2 separate regions of the Homo sapiens genome follow, and region 2 is linked to region 1. A link means that fine-mapping ties the variant in region 1 to the expression of a gene that starts in the linked region. Tissue or cell type: caudate. Region 1 holds a variant in brackets; the other region holds the start of a gene. All regions are shown on one strand. Distances are from middle to middle.

Region 1 (2,683 bases):
GTTTCAATCTTCTCTCCTTGAGAATGAGTCAAAACCCCTTTGACAGCTAATGTGACATGTTTAAAGTGGTATTATCCTGCTCTGAGGCACAATGGGAGGCAGGAAGGTGGGAAAACACAGGAAGCCGCAGGCCAGGCTCTGCAGAGGTGCAGAAACATTTCCAGCTTTTGAGCAAATTATAGGCTGCCCGGGGATCCCAAGGCACTAAACATCCTGCAGTGAGTTACTGCAATCTGAACACTCATCAAGGCTAATGACTCCTCTGAGTCATTAGAATGCAACTTCTTTTGCTACTCCTAGAGCTGAGAACATGGGCATCTGGAATAGAAGCAGTCATGGAAATCTTGCTTTTAATAGCCATTAACTGGAACAGGACAAAAACAAAAATAATTTTAGCTACTGATTACTTCTCCCAAGTTTTTCCTGTTTACTTCAGGGAATCAATTTTGGAACTTGAGGGATGGAAAAATATATGGTGGATATGGCATGCTACCTACCTATGGAATCCAGGGTTTAAACAAATAGATGTCTTGCTTTACATAAAATACAGTTTATTCCTGAAAAGTTGTGAGTAAATAAAATCTCTCTCTCTCTCTCTCTTTGTGTGTGTGTGTATATATATATATATGTTTTGAGAGATGGAGTCTCACTCTGTCACCCAGGCTGGAGTACAGTGGCATGATCTCTGCTCACTGCAACCTCTGCCTCCCAGATTCAAGTGATTCTCCTGCCTCAGCTCCCCAAGTAGCTGGGACTACAGGCATGTGCCACTATGCCCAGCTAATTTTTTGTATTTTTAGTAGAGATGGGATTTCACTATATGTTGGCCAGGCTGGTCTTGAACTCCTGACCTCAAGTGATCCACCCACCTCAGCCTCCCAAAGTGCTGGGATTACAGGCATGAGCCACCGTGCCTGGCCTAATATCTATATCTAAAATTATATTGTATGTGTACTCAGGAGGTTGCTGTTTAAAGGGAAGCTACAGGGAATTGCTCAGGAACATACATCACTGTCCCCTGATTCATGGCTTTCACATTTGGACTTTCCTACTTTCATTTCCAAAAAAGACCACAGGTTCTCTCTTAGCTAGTGCTTGGTCATCAGGGCCCACTGACCAAATGAGTGGCCAGAGAAGGGGCATGGCTTCTGCTGCATGGAGCTTTGGGTTAAGTA[G/C]GCAGAGAGGGAAGGGAATGGTCATTTAACAAAAATTGCACGGAGTACCTGATCTATTCCTTCAAATACTTATTTCATTTGGTCTGAAAGGCATATTTGTTATGGGCTGTTCATCCTGGAACAGGGTTAAAACTTCTTTCTGTCCTTCGTGGAAGCAATTCATTCTGTTCTGTAAATATATTCTGTTCTCTCTTGCAAGCACAAGGCAGGCTGCCCTTCCATGATTTGTTGAAATAAAGCACAGCCCGGTGACCTGCTTTGGCCAATAAAATGCAACATGGCACCTCTGGGTGGGAGTGTTTCAGAGTCAGTGTGATTTACCATCTTCTCTTTTTCTTTTTGCCACATAACCTGTAGAGTTCCAGATAAGACTACTTCATTAGCCTGCATCCAGTGTGAGGGTGACATAGAGCACAGTCCCTAGATGTGGGGGTCAGAGACACATGGTGCAGAGCACAGAATAAACTGTGCTTTAGGCATTGAGATTTTAGGGTTGTTTGTTCCTCAGCATAATATGGCTAAGAAACATTTTGTTTGTTCAATAAAGATGTCCAGAGATGCTCAGTTCCAATTTAATCAGAGCTCCAACCTGTCGACATGTTGGAGCTCTGATTAAAGTAGAAGTGAGGGAACCCCCTTTTTGAGGGACTTTGCACTGCTTTTCATCTCAGCATCCACTGTTCTTTCAACAGACCTCTGGCAATGAGAGCAAAGGAAAAGAATTCCTTGTGGGAAATGATGCTATGACACTGGGAGGTAGTAATTGATATTTAGGAAATTATATCTCTGATGCATATCTCCTTCCACTAGACTCATGTTCCCTGAGGGCAGGATGACATTTGTTCCCAGGGCCTAGCGTAGCACCAGGCACATGGCAGGTACTCTATAAGTGATGTATGTGTTAGGTATGGTAAGTTGTTCAGAATATGGGTGCTGGAAGGAGGCAGAGCTGGGCCTTTATTTTGACAGTTGTAAACTAGGCATATAATAATGTTTACTTCAAAGTATTTCTATGAAGATTAAATAAAAGAATATATATCAGGAACATGACCTAGGGCTTGGCATGTGGTAAATTCTCCAAAAGCGGTAGCTGATATTGGTTACTTATGGTAGAGAGTGGAAAAACACCCAAACCTTTTCTGAGTGAGAAAAATTTCCAGCCATTTGAGTTATATCCCTCAGGAAAATATGTTGAAATTTGAAGTTGTGAAGGCTGTCCCATCCTCAAATATGCCATCTCGTTAATTGATTATTTAGAGTTGAAAACACTTGGAGAAATTGTAGTTTCAGAAAGGGAGAGCTGACCTGTCTTTTCCTGCATGTAGCCTATGATAAAGATTCCTCTGGGAGGGGTAACCTCTCCATACCAGGTGAGAAAATGCCCTTATCATGAGAGACTTGGAAATGGAGGCTGCGATCGACTTGAATAAACATACTTAACAAAGTAACGCTTATCATCGGCCACCTGTTTTACATTCCCCATATATCTTCCAGTGACTCCCCTAGGA
Region 2 (2,683 bases), 280 kb after region 1:
AATAAAATAAAAGAAAAGACCACACAATAATGTGTTCAGGGCTTTCTCATGTAAAAGTAATTGCAAACACCAACGTATTAGGCATATCAGTAACACCTTGGTGTGAAATAGCACTTTAGACCTTCCCTTTCTGAGAGTAGACTTTGATAGGAGAAAGGAAAGCTAAGTAGCTTGATAGAAAGCATGGCTCAGTGCAAAATCTTGTCCTACCATTCAGTAGCTGTGTGATTTTGGGCAAGTCATAAAACCTCTCCAAACCTCCTGTTCCTTATAAAAATTAGTGTAATCTCTGCACCTTCTTCACCACAATGGCCTATATGTAAAGCTCTTGACCGAAAACGCTCAATACACAGTAATCTATACTAAATAGGAAGGCTCTAACACTAGGACCTTAAATGGCAAGGTCTCCAGCCTGGTTAGGAGAGGACTCCCCGCACACCCCCCTACCCTGGCCCCCAACCACCACCACCAAGATAACGACCGCTTGGAGTGATTCAGGGAAGTAGGCCCACTGGACAAGGAGGTGGCTCCACCAGCTGGTGCCCCGATGAAGAACTGAGGCCAGTGGGCTCCCCAGCCACCGCCGCTCAGAAGCTGCCAAGCACCCCCGGTGCTTTGGGCCCCACGCACAGCACTGAGTGCTGTAAGGAAATGCAAAGCATTGGTGGCCCTGCCATGGGAATACAGGTTTCTGTTCTTTGGAGGCACCGGAGAAACTAGGAGTTCGGTCAGCACCTTAAGGCGCTAAAAGTGTACGTGGGGGTGGGGCGCACACAGGTTCTGAACCAATTCTTCAAATTTGCCCAGGGCTCCCCATACACCAGGTGTGGCCCGCGTCCCTAGTTCTAGGCTGTTGGGGGAGGGGTCGCCTTTTGTAGGGGACCTGGTCTTTTTGCGAGCTGGCAGCGTGCTCCCAGCAGCGAAGGCCGTAGTCTCGCTCAGGAGGCCGCGCGCCAGACCCGGGGATGCGCGGTGTTCAAAGGGTGACGGCGCGCGGGTCCCGGGCAGGAGAGCCCGCCAGAGCCGGTGCTGCCTGGCGCCGAGAGGCCCGGACTGGCGACTGCTGCCGCGCCACCGGGGCCCACCTGCGCAGGGACGCTCGGCCTCAGGCCCTCTGGGCTGCTCCACCCTGCTCCGGCCGCAGGCGAGCGGCGAGGGGAGGGGGGCACGGTTTATGTGCAGTGGGGCGGGCGGCGTCCGCGCGGCTTCCCCGAGGCCGGAGGCGGGGCGGGCGGGCCTCGGGTGGCGCGGGGGGCGGACCCGCCAGCTGCCTGCGCTGCTCGCCAGCTTGCTCGCACTCGGCTGTGCGGCGGGGCAGGCATGGGAGCCGCGCGCTCTCTCCCGGCGCCCACACCTGTCTGAGCGGCGCAGCGAGCCGCGGCCCGGGCGGGCTGCTCGGCGCGGGTGAGTGCGGGCACCGACTGGGGCATCCGCCCGGGCGCGGGAGAGGCGAGGCGCCGGGAGGAGCGGGACAAAGGGCCGGGTATGCGCGGGGTAGGGTAACTGCGGGCTGCCGGAGGCACCGCAGGACTTCGCCAGGGCAGTCCTCGGGGTTCCAGGACACGGGCTGGGGGCCTGAAGGAGCTCTGGGGAGACGGCGGGGGCTGCAGGTCATTTGGATTCATGCAGTGTCACCCATGAAACGGATGGGGAAAGAAGATCCTGCTGTCTTGGGTGCAGGATGTTGGTTGGGAAGCAGAGAGAGCCGGCTCTCGGCAAGCTGTCCTTCGGCGGGGGCGATGGCTACACCCCCATGCACCCCCCCAACACACCACCACCACTACTTCTTTTCCTTGAGTTTTGCATATACCGGATTCCATCAAGTTCTGAATATTAAGTTTTAACCCTGGGCATGTGATTGTGAACACACCTAAGCAAGCAAGAGAAGTGCAAAAGTGCAGCAAATACAGGCTGGGAAATAGAATCTTTTCTCCGGAGTGGTTGTCCGTGTGCGTTCCGGGGGTGCTAACCCTAGACACTACAGTCTGAACTAACAACAGTTGTTGTAAGCAAATAGTTCTTCTGCCTGTAGGCATTCATCACGAGTTAACTTTTAAATAAAAGTTTTAAAGTTTTAAAAGGAGCGGGAGAAGACTTGTTCAGATGAAGGAACACCACCACTCCTCTCCAGAATACAAATTAGGTTTGCTTTCCAGCACCTCAGGAGAAAGCAGCTGATAAAAATCCTGTTTGTTTTACTGCCCACTGGGTGACACCAGTAAGAATTAAGCAGCTCAGTGTAGGTATTGGAATAGGGCTTGCTTCTCTCAGCTCCTGAAACTAAATTTGAGGGCTCCCTGTGCACTCCTTAGGAACAGGTAGGCCAGTGCCAGAATCCTCATCACATGGTCATGTGAGAAAGAATTGAATTTATAGATGAGGTCAGCTGTGGTCAAAAGCCCTATGTCAAAGTAGTATCAGGATATTTATTGCATGTTGTTTCAAGATCCTACTTGTGCATGCGAGTATTTGTGACAGGTTTATAACCGTGCCTACCATGAAGTCTGTCAGGAGTGGATTGGAGGTGAAGTGGGGAGAAGGAACTTAGAAAATGCCCCCAGAAGCCACTATGTTTATTTGTGAAAGTGTTTGCACCCCATCTGCGTACGAAAAGGTTGTTTCACTTGCAGTTTTCCTAGTTAAATAAAGTCAAGCGGTAACTTGTCCTTTCCTGTGCCTGAAC

Direction of the effects. Alleles are on the strand shown, and positions count from the first base shown. SD is a standard deviation of normalised expression in the study named.
For the expression in caudate of the gene that starts at base 1,295 in region 2, allele G in region 1 goes with a lower level than allele C (small effect, 0.36 SD a copy in GTEx).

The links. PIP is the estimated chance that this variant, and not a neighbour inherited with it, causes the effect.
Region 2: it holds the start of PRSS23, and the variant in region 1 is fine-mapped to the expression of PRSS23 in caudate (GTEx, PIP above 0.99).

What each region holds. Positions count from the first base shown.
Region 1 is chr11:86,515,771-86,518,453 of GRCh38, forward strand. All of the region lies in intron 4 of ME3 (malic enzyme 3), which reads right to left. Among named protein-coding and RNA genes, the nearest start is that of CCDC81, 140 kb to the left of the region's middle. The variant G/C (reference allele first, on the strand shown) is at 1,176.
Region 2 is chr11:86,799,248-86,801,930 of GRCh38, forward strand. PRSS23 (serine protease 23) reads left to right here and starts at 1,295. Exons shown (of 2, transcript NM_007173.6): 1 at 1,295-1,404.